2 separate regions of the Homo sapiens genome follow, and region 2 is linked to region 1. Evidence: fine-mapped QTL for protein levels in blood plasma. A gene starts in region 1. The other region holds a variant in brackets. All regions are shown on one strand. Distances are from middle to middle.

Region 1 (5,368 bases):
CTACTAAAAACACAAAAAGTAGCCGGGTGTGGTGGCACACGCCTATAATCCCAGCTACTCAGGAGGCTGAAGCAGGAGAACTGCATGAACCCAGGAGGTGGAGGCTACAGTGAGCTGAGATCACACCACTGTACTCCAGCCTGGGCGACAGAGCAAGACTCCGTCTCAAAAAATATATACATACATATATTTATATATTATGTGCTTTATATTTTATATTTATTATATATAATACATTGTATTATATAATATGTATAAAAATATATCAAAGTAATGCATGTTGCTTGGTTTAAAAAGCCAATGGGAGGCCGGGTGTGGTGGCTCACACCTGTAATCCCAGCACTTTGGGAGGCCAAGGCGGGTGGATCATGAGGTCAAGAGATCGAGACCATTCTGGCCAACATGGTGAAACCCCATCTCTGCCAAAAAATACGAATATTAGCTGGGCATGGTGACGCGTGCCTGTAGTCCCAGCTACCTGGGAGGTTGAGGTGGGAGAATCTGAACCCGGGCGACGGAAGTTTGCAGTGAGCTGAGATCGAGTCACTTCACTCCAGTCTGGGCGACAGTGAGACTCTGTCTCAAAAACAAAACAAAACAACGACACAAAAAAGCCACTGGGAAGACTTATTTTTATTTATTTATTTATTTATTTATTTATTTATATTTTTGAGACGGAGTCTCGCTCTGTCTCCCAGGCTGGAGTGCAGTGGCACAATCTCGGCTCACTGCAAGCTCCACCTCCCGGGTTCACTCCATTCTTCTACCTCAGCCTCCCGAGTACCTGGGACTACAGGTGCACGCTGCCACGCCCGTAAGTTTTTGTATTTTTAGTAGAGATGGGGTTTCACCATGGTAGCCAGGATGGTCTCGATCTCCTGACCTCGTGATCCGCCCGCCTCGGCCTCCCAAAGTGCTGGGATTACAGGCGTGAGCCACCGCGCCCGGCCACCACTGGGAAGACTTATAATAAAAGGTTACAGTTCCTTGCCACATCCTCCCCACCCCAGCCCCACCTCCAGTCTATCTTCCCAGGGACAATCTATTTATTTGCTTTTTTTTTTTTTTTTTTTAAAGTTGTGTGTGTGTCTGTATTTTAATATTGATCCGGGGTCTCACTATGTTGCCCAGGCTCGTCTTGAGCTCCTGAGCTCAAGCAATCTGCTGCCTCAGCCTCCCAAAGTGCTGGGATTTACAGGCATGAGCCACTGAGCCCGGCCTTATTTGCATTATTTTTAGGCATGGAAAAGACGTAAACGGTTTGGGGAAAGCATATTTTAAATAGCTAAGATTCTGCACTTAGATCACTTTGGAAGTGTCCTTATGTGCCTGCTTTGCTTTTAGAGTTAACTAATGCACCAGCTTAATAGTCGCCTGGTTGAAAATTCTAAAAGTACAAAAAATTTACAGTAAAAAGTCTTCCCCTAACTCCTGTCCCCAGTGACACAGTTCCTCTCCCTGGGGACCTTCCTTGTTACCAGTTCTTGTTATCATTCTACAGGTGTCCTGTTTTACTGTTTCATTTTTAATTATTGTCATGGTTTCCTCCATGTCTCTCTATAAATTGTGCTTATGATGTTGTTATCGCTTCATATATCAACTCTAGCCTATCTATCTTCCTGCTGTGACCTTGATATGGCGACTTACTCCTTAAGTCCTTCTGAACTGCATCAATTTTTTTCAACCACTGATCAGTATTATTTTTTGAAAAATTAAAAATGGTTAAACTCGTTAAAGGGAGTTTATGTAACATCAAACAAACCAATAAACAAAACTTACTCTACGAGAATGGAGTACTAATATTTGGATTAAACCAGAGTTTTCATGTTAATTTAGAGAAATTCACAGCCTGATGCCCAGACACTACACTCCGGGCGTGGGCATACACGCCTTGCCTGTCCGGGAACGGCCGTCAACGCCCTTTTAAAAAAGACAGCGCCCACCCAGGACCCCGCCCCCTGGTGGTTAAAGATGTAAACTAAGCCTCGTACTGCAACCTCCCCTTAAAGGGGAAACCCATTTCTGTCGTCTAAAAAGGGAGCAGTGGCTGCACCGCCTTTCCTTAAGGTAAAACTCGGCGCCCCTCTAGTTAAAAGGGTAAAGTACGCGCTGGGCCCCACCTCACCTGCGCGGTTACTTTGTACTCGGTGTAGCCCTTGGGGTGAGTCCTGGGGTCCGACACTGTGTAGTGCCGCAGGAAGTCATCCTTCGCCTGGCGGGACATGAAACCGAGCTGGAGCGGAGCGGAGCGCCGGCCTCCACCTCCTCGCCGTCCCCACCCCTCCGGCCCAGCCTCCGCCCGCCGCCGCCTCGCCAGGCCTGCGCTCTTCTTCCTCTGGCCTAGGGATTTTGTCGCAAGTGACAGCGCTGTTCCGATCCCGGGTGCGCGGCCAAGGGAGCGTCTGAAAAGTTCCTTCTCTGTGGTGAAGCGTAAACCCAGGTCACTGGAAAGATTGGTTGGGAAGGCTGGGATCACTCGTCTCATTTCTGCCGGGTGATCAAGCCCACCCTATCCAAGCGTAAACCCTTGTCACAGACTTCCAAACGACTTCTCCCCGCTTCCTAAATCCCTGCTTTCGTTCATCCACCCAACTCTTATTGTGTCCAGTATGTACAGGACAACGTCAAATTATTTCCCTGTCTCCCTCCACAGGATTCCCTAATTCATGTTTTCTGGAAAGTAGAGGAAGCAAAGAAGGTTGGAGAAGCAGGATGGTGTCATGGGCTCTGAGTCACGACTCTTACTAGCTGTAGGAGTTTCCCTTAACTACTCAGCCTCAGTTTCTCATCTGTAGAATGGAGATGTTTATAATAGAATCTGTGTAGGGCAGTGGAGCTTTTTTGCGATGGGTTTGCTGCCAGAACACAGGTGTCGTGAAAACCACCGTTAAATCAAAGCCAAAATGGGGGTTTGGCGCGGTGGTTCACGCCTGTAATCCCAGCATTTTGGGCAGTGGAGGCAGGTGGATCACTTGAGGTCAGGAGTTCAAGACCAGCCTGGCCAACATGGTGAAACCCCGTTTCTACTAAAAATACAAAAATTAGCTGGGCGTGGTGGCGCACGCCTGTAATTCCAGCTACTCCAGGGGCTGAGCTGGCTGATGGCTTCAGCCCAGGAGGTTGAGGCTGCAGTGAGCTGCAATCACACCACTGCACTCCAGCCTGGGCAACAGAGTGAGACTCCATCTCAAAAGAAAGGGAGCAGGGGAGGGAAAAGACTCAGCTCAACATCATCATCTGATTTGGGCAAGTCCAGCACTACTGGCCATCTGATCTACAAGTGTGGTGGGATCCACAAAAGAACCATCGACAATTTTGAGGAAGCTGCTGAGATGGGAAAGGGCTCCTTCAAGCATACCTGGGTCTTGGGTAAGCTGAAAGTTGAACGTGAGAGTGGTATCACCACTGATACCTCCCTGCTGGCAATTGAGACCAGCAAGTACTATGTGACCATCCTCAATGGCCCAGGATGCAGAGACTTTATCAAAAACCTGACCTCAGGCTAATTGTGCTGTCCTGATTGTTGCTGCTGGTGTTGATGAATTTGAAGCTGGTAATTCCAAGAATGGGCAGACGCGTGAGCACACCCTTCTGTCTTACACGCTGGGTGTGAAACTAATTGTTGGTGTTAACAAAATGGATCCCAATGAGCCACCCTAAAGAGGAGAGATGGGGGCCGGGCGTGGTGGCTCACGCCTGTAATCCCAGCAGTTTGGGAGGCAGAGGTGGGTGGATTAGGAAGTCAGGAGTTCAAGACCAGCCTGACCAAGATGGTGAAACCCCGTCTCTACTAAAAATACAAAAATTAGCTGGGCATGGTGGCGGGTGCCTGTAATCCCAGCTACTTGGGAGGCTGAGGCAGAGAATTGCCTGAAACCAGGAGGCAGAGGTTGCAGTGAGCTGAGATCGTGCCACTGCACTCCAGCCTGGGAGACAGAGGACAGAGTGAGACTCCGTCTCAAAAAAAAAAAAAAAAAAAAAAGGAGAGATGGGAGAAATCATTAAGGAAATCAGCACCTACATTAAGAAATTGGCTACAACTCTGACATAGTAGTATTTGTGCCAATATCTGGTTGGAGTGGTCACAACAGGCGGGAGCCAAGAGCTCACATGCCTTGGCTCAAGGGATGGAAAGTCACCTGTAAAGATGGCGATGCTGTGGAACCACGCTGCTCGGAAGCTCTAGATCACATCCTACCACCAACTCACAAGCTCTTGGTTCTGCCCCTCCAGACGTCCACAAAATTGGTGGTATTGGTACTGTCAGTGTGGGCCACGTGGAGACTGGTGTTCCCAAACCTGGCATGGGTTTTGAGACCTTTGCTCCAGTCAGTGTTAGAATTGAAGCAAAAATCTGTTGAAATGCAGCATGAAGTTGGTAGGCTTACATACAACACATAGTATTTACTGCAGAGGAAGCATTGTGAATAGCCACTCTTGTTCCTGGAATTCAGGTGTACAGGTGCGGTGCCTTGGTCTTCAGAAAGAAGCAAAGCCTGGCATGGGGCTCATGCCTGTAATCCCAGCACTTTGGGAAGCCAAGGCGGGAGGATCACTTGAGGCCAGGAGTTCAAGACCAGCCTGGGCAACAGGCTGCCTCTGATTTCATGAGAAATTTAAAAATTAGCTGGGGGCCAGGTGCAGTGGCTCATGCCTGTAATCCCAGCACTTTGGGAGGCCAAGTCGGGCGGATTACTTGATATCAGGAGTTCAAGACCAGCCTGGCCAACATGATGAAACCCCATCTCTACTAAAAATACAAAAATTAGCCAGGTGTGGTGTCGGGTGCCTATAATCCCAGCTACTCGGGAGAATGGGGCAGGAGAGTTGCTTGAACCCGGCAGGCAGAGATTGCACTTAACCTTCTGGAGGAAATGTCATCCAGGAGCCAGTCAATGCCAGGCAGTGGGTTCTCCCCAGCAGTGGGGCTGCAGCCCTTGACGTACCAGTGGTGGCTGCAGAGAGTCCAGATGCAGGGCTTGGGAGAACAAAGGTGCTGGTGGTGGCCAGTGACCGCAGACCCTTCCCTCCCTGCTCAAGGGTCAGCCCATCCAGGAAGCCTCCCCGGCCCCTGGGAGAGCTTATCTGTTCCCCGGGGCACCTGAGCTCTCTGTACAGTGCCACGCCAGTGCCACCCCTTAGTGTCCCATATAAGAGAGGATCCTGATAGGCGGCACTGCATAGGGCTGTCCCTAACTGTATTGCTGAATGGAATGGGTAGTACTTAGAACAGTGTAGGGAAAAGAGAGATCAGACTGTTACTGTATCTATGTAGAAAGGGAAGATAGAAGAAATTTCATCTTGACCTGTACCCTGAACAATTGCTTTGCCCTGAGATGCTGTTAATCTGTAACTTTGCCCCAGCCAC
Region 2 (5,368 bases), 11 kb before region 1:
TGTCCTCTATTTCCCTGAGACTATGCTCCCTATTTTCTAGCTCAGGGGCCAGCAAATGTTTTCTGCAAAGGGCCAGGTTGTAAATGTTTTGGGATTTGCAGGCGGCAAAGACTCAACTCTGCAACTGTTTCAACTGCCAGTGTAGCGCGAAAGCAGCTATCACAATACTAAATGAATTAGCCTGGTTGTGTTCCAACAAATTTTATTTATGGACTCTTAAATTTCATATAATTTTCACTTGTCACATATAAATTTCACCTGTCATTGTCACAGAATATTATTTTGATTTTTTTAATCATTAAAAAAAGTAAAAACCACTCTCACAGCCCTTACATTAAAAAGGAGGTGGGCCAGATTTGGCTGCAGGTGGGAGTTTGCAGACCCCAGTTCTAGAGGGGTAAACTAATGGTTTAATGACCACAGCTGCTGCTCACACATCAAGACAGACAGACATGGGCCGGGCGTAGTGACTCATGCCTGTAATCTCAGCACTTTGGGAGACTGAGGCGGGTGGATCACTTGAGGTCAGGAGTTCGAGACCAGCCTGGCCAACATGGTGTAACCCCGTCCCTACTGAAAATACAAAATATTAGCTGGGCGTGGTGGCATGTGCCTGCAATCTCAGCTACTGGGGAGGCTGAGACAGGAGAACTGCTTGAACCTGGGAGGTGGAGGTTGCAGTGAGCCGCGATCCCACCACTGCACTCCAGTCTGGGCGACACAGCGAGACTCCAACTCAAAAAAACCCCAAAAAGACAGGCAGGGTCAGAAGTGTGAGTCCTTGATTCCAAGGTGGCAGGTGTAATCAGGGAGCTAAGAATTCATTATTTTTCTCATTCTTGGTCCAGTTACCTACAGAAATGGCTCCTGTAATTACAAGACCAGGAGGTAGGGCCAGGCCCTGGGGAGAGGAGAAGGGGCTGGCAGTGCAGGAGCGAGAGTCCCAGGGAATGGCCCACTCCCTGTTAGGGTGGGAGTTGAGACAGGTGCAGGCGCAGGATCTCCTCTGCCCGCTTCAGGTACTCAGCTGCCTTCTTCTTCACACCTTCCTGGCGGGCAGGCAACGGGTCACCTGTGGAGAGAGAATGCTCAG[C/T]TGAGGCACCTGGGCACCACTGGCCTGGTCAGAACCCCTGGTCGGGTCCTTTACAATTCGCAGAGCATCACCATGTGCTTTTCCCTCCTCTCTGGGGCCCAGCATCCATTCTCCTCAGTCTACAAATAAGAAAACTGAGGCCATGCTGGGCGCGGTGGCTCACGCCTGTAATCCCAGCACTTTGGGAGGCCGAGGTGGGTGGATCACGAGGTCAGGGGTTCGAGACCAGCCTGACCAACATGGTGAAAGCCCATCTCTACTAAAACTACAAAAATTCGCTGGGCGTGGTGGCACGTGCCTGTAATCCCAGCTACTCAGGAGGCTGAGGCAGGAGAATGGCTTGAACCTGGGAGGTGGAGGTTGCAGTGAGCCAAGATTGTGCCACTGCACTCCAGCCTGGGCGACAGAGCGAGACTCTGTCTCAAAAAATAAAAATAAATAAATAAAAATAAATAAAAAATAAAAATTCAAAAATTAGCCAGGCATGGTGGTGGGCGCCTGTAATCCCAGCTAGTCGGGAGGCTGAGGCAGTAGAATCACTTGAACCTGGGGGGCGGAGGTTGCAGTGAGCCGAGATTGTGCACTCCAGCCTGCAACAAGAGCAAGACTCTGTCTCAAAAAAAAAAAAAAAAAAAGAGGAAGAAGAAAACTGAGGCCACAAGAGGTTAAAAACAACAACAACAAAAAAACAGAAACAAAAATCTGCCCAGGTTACACAGCTGGTCAGTGAGGAGTAAAAGGGCTCCTGATCCGTGATTTGCTTGTTTTTTTGCTCCCTTCATCACTGCCCCACCTGGGACCCAGGCCTGACCCTCCACCCTCAGTCCCTACTCACTGGGGACTCCCTGAAGCAAGACGTGCACGCCGTCTCGATAGCCCTGGAGTGCAGCAGCGTAAGCGCCTGCCTTCTCATCCCGCAGGGCCTGGGTGATGAGCTCTGTGGCCTGGCTTAGGTAGGCAGGGGTGGGCCCTCCTTCCCCATCCTCTTCCTCCTCCTGCCCTCCTGGCTCCCAGGGTTCCTGGTCCAGCCTTGCAGACTCCACCTCCATCGTTGCCAGCTCAGCCACATGGGTGGGGCTGGGGGCTGCGCCTTCTGCAGTTAGAAAGGGAGGACTCGGACCAGACTGGCCCTTCCTTTCCCAGGCCCTCTGCCCAACCCCAAGACTTCTTTTGTCCATCAGGGTATCAGCCTGTCCCCAGTAGAGGGGACCAATGCCAGAGCAATCCAGAAGTCGTCTGTGGATCAAAAACTAGCCATGAGCTATTTGATCGATAGGGTTCATGTGCTTCTGTAAAAACAGCCTTACCTTCCTAATTATGTCTTTAGGTACACACTCTAGTTTGTAAGCTCTGGGTCACTGGTCCTATTTCCCTCTTGACTCCAGTTGACCTAGAAATCCAAAAATCCCCTCCAGAAAGTTTCCCTGAAGGATGCTAGGCCACCACCACCAGGCTGAGGGTAGAAATGCTCCAAGACTTGGAATAATCTTAGAATAGGAGACTTAGAGAATCTCAGGGGTTTTCTGAAGCCTTGCAGTTTCAGCTGAGGCCCCCAAATGTAAAGACAGTGAGTGACAGGTGTCCTCACATTTCCCAGGTAAAGGCTCATTATATCCCCCTGGACTGGCTAAAAGGGGGTCGGACATCCTACCTGCAGCTTACACACGAGGCGACTGGAAATCTGGTGCACCTTTGGTGAAAAGGCCTCTGAGGGGAAGGTGCGGGGGCAGGAAGCATCATGATACCCTATCATCCTGGAGAGGGAAAAAGTGGGTGCCTCTCTAACCCCATCCCTGTGAGTTCCATGAGAGCCCTGAGAAGTCCGGGCCTCCTGCAGGAGGGAGAAGGCACCTCCTGGCTGGGCCTACAGCCCTCCATGTATTGCTCAGGGAGCAGAGAGCAGAAGAGTACCTGGGACACCTGCACACTCGAGTTAAGGAGTTTGCTGTGAAGAAGGGAGACACAGGTGCCCACTCCTTGCCTCGAGAATTCTGGTGGTGAGAGGCTTGTTGGAGGTGCCCACCATGGCAGGGTAGGGAAATAAGGCAGTGTCTGAGCACACTGCAGTTCCAGGCTTTGGGGACTTTTCCCATGGGCTGAGTGAATGTCTCATTGGAGCTGTCTGTGAAGGGTCTTGAAAAGATCCTGGCTGGACACAGTCACTCATGCCTATGATCCAGCACTTTGGGAGGCTGAGGTGGGAGGACTACTTGAGTCCAGGAGCTTGAGACCAGCCTGGGCAACATAGTGAGATCTCATCTCTACAAAAAATCAAAAACTTAGCTGGGCATGATGGTGCATGCCTGTGGTCCTGTCCCAGCTATTTGGGAGGCTGAGGTGGGAGGATCGCTTAAGCCTAGGAGTTGGAGGCTGCAGTGAGCCGTGATCGCACCACTGCCCTCTAGCCTGGTGACAGAGCCAGACTCTGTCTCAAAAAATAAATAAAAAAAAATAAAAAAATTAAAAAGGAGAGGAAAAAAAATAGAAAAGCTCCTGCCCAGGCAGCTAGCTGCCCAGCAGGGACTCAGCTGGCACAAGGACAGAGCACTTGGATGCCTGCCACCCAGAGGCCAGGCATAACAGCCCTGTGACACCAACATTGCCTTTCCCTCCCATTCCTTCTTCCCACTCCCCAACCCTGGAGAGGCAGGAGCAGGAACGGGAGGAGGCAGAACAAGAAAAGTGAAAGAGGCAGGGCATTTTGGCTCACGCCCGTAATCTCAGCACTCTGGGAGGCGGAGGCAGGTGGATCACTTGAGTGTCAGGAGTTTGAGACCAGCCTGACCAAAATGGTGCGACCCTGTCTCTACTCAAAATACAAAAATTAGCCAGGCGTGGTGGCGCGCGCCTGTAGTCCCAGCCACTCAGGAGGCTGAGGCAGGAGAATCGCTTGAATCCGGGAGGCGGAGGTGGGAGTGAGCTGAGATCGCGCCACTGCACTCCAGCCTCGGCAATCCAGAGCAAGACTCGATCTCAAAAAAAAAAACGGGCCAAGCGCGGTGGCTCACATCCGTAATCCCAGCACTTTCAGAGGCTGAGGCGGGCGCACCACCTGAGGTCGGGAGTTTGAGACCAGCCTGACCAACATGGAAAAATCCCATCTCGACTAAAAATACAAAATTAGCAGGCACCGTGGTGCGCGCCTGTAGTCGCAGCTACTCAGGAGGCTGAGGCAGGAGAATCGCTTGGACCTGGGAGGTTGCAGTGAGCAGAGATTGCGCCACTGTACTCCAGACTGGGCGACAAAGTGAGACTCTGTCTCAAAAAAAGAAAAAGAATAACAGACATGGACTCTTGCTATATTGCCCAGGCTGGTCTTGAATTCCTGGGCTCAAGCAATCTTCCTGCCTCAGCCTCCCAAAGTGTCGAGATTACAGGTGTGAGCCAATGTGCCAGGCGTTGGCAAATTTTAGAATGAAAAACTCCAGTGTCTCAGAGCTTGGGACTGTCGAGTCCCAGGATCTCACAGCAAGAAGGTGCCCAGGACCCTGACCTCCATTGGGGGGGCCCTTCTACCTCCAGCATCCCCAAATGCCAGTGGCTCCAGGCCCCCAGAGGGATTTCCCTTTGCAGCTGCCCTTTGAGCTGAGAACTCACTCCCATTGACCAGCAGGCCTCTTGCCTTCAGGATCTGCAGCCAGACCCTGGCCAGTCAGGAAATCCCACCAAGAGCTTGCAGGGAAGGAACTAAAATGTCCCAGAGCAGTGTGACCCGGCTCTTTCCAAAGCCTTCTCAGTGAGATGGCCCCAACATGGGAAGTGCCTCCTTTCCTTCCTCGTGGCTATTTGTTGCACAGGTGCATCCAGCACACCACACCACGTGCCCTGGCACAGGGCTTCTAATTCTCATTGAAGCTGCTATTGGCCCACAGGGCAGCACTGCTGAGGAGACGTCTCTCCCTGATCTGCGCAGGCACTGAGCAGGCTAGTGGGGCTCTGCCCTCCTCCCTGTCCCAAGGACGTCCTGCCCTGGCTCCTTCCCGGCTGTCCCAGCTCATTACCTTCCTTGGAGAAGGGGTCGAAGAGGGCAAGCTCAGCCTCGGTGAGGGGGCCTCGGGCAGGGGAACCAGATGCCTCCTCGGTGCTCTCACAGTTAAAGAGGAGATCCAGGGCCTCCTGGGCAGGGCTGGATGGTGGGGGGTCCACTGAGGAAGAGATAAGTGGGGTCATGAATACCTGCGTTTATTTCTCAGCTTTCAAAATAGAATTACTCTCTCCTTAAACCCTTGCAGCAACCATGGGCATAGACAAGCCTGTTATTAGGGTTTGTGCTCA

Alleles and levels. Alleles are on the strand shown, and positions count from the first base shown. The strength of an association depends on the size of the effect and on how common the allele is.
With allele C in place of T in region 2, the plasma level of the protein whose gene starts at base 2,323 in region 1 is higher (strong association).

What was found. A credible set is the group of variants that fine-mapping cannot tell apart. PIP is the posterior inclusion probability: the model's chance that the variant is causal. Protein levels are from antibody-based Olink assays in UK Biobank. Linkage for the fine-mapping came from a reference panel and not from the study's own genotypes, which makes the PIPs less certain.
Region 2: its variant is the best candidate, but not a certain one, in a credible set for the plasma level of the SNX15 protein (UK Biobank, PIP 0.73).

Annotation. Positions count from the first base shown.
Region 1 is chr11:65,024,394-65,029,761 of GRCh38, reverse strand. It overlaps SNX15 (sorting nexin 15), which reads right to left and starts at 2,323. Exons shown (of 8, transcript NM_013306.5): 1 at 2,126-2,323. The coding sequence starts at 2,224. ARL2-SNX15 (ARL2-SNX15 readthrough (NMD candidate)) reads right to left here. Exons shown (of 11, transcript NR_037650.2): 4 at 2,126-2,444. It also overlaps the pseudogene EEF1A1P18. RefSeq lists a silencer at 2,192-2,361 and an enhancer at 2,211-2,505.
Region 2 is chr11:65,035,390-65,040,757 of GRCh38, reverse strand. SNX15 (sorting nexin 15) reads right to left here. Exons shown (of 8, transcript NM_013306.5): 6 at 5,095-5,238; 7 at 1,929-2,186; 8 at 186-1,072. The coding sequence ends at 966. It overlaps ARL2-SNX15 (ARL2-SNX15 readthrough (NMD candidate)), which reads right to left. Exons shown (of 11, transcript NR_037650.2): 9 at 5,095-5,238; 10 at 1,929-2,186; 11 at 186-1,072. Among named protein-coding and RNA genes, the nearest start is that of SAC3D1, 3.1 kb to the left of the region's middle. RefSeq lists enhancers at 1,709-1,828, 1,899-1,948. The variant C/T (reference allele first, on the strand shown) is at 1,094.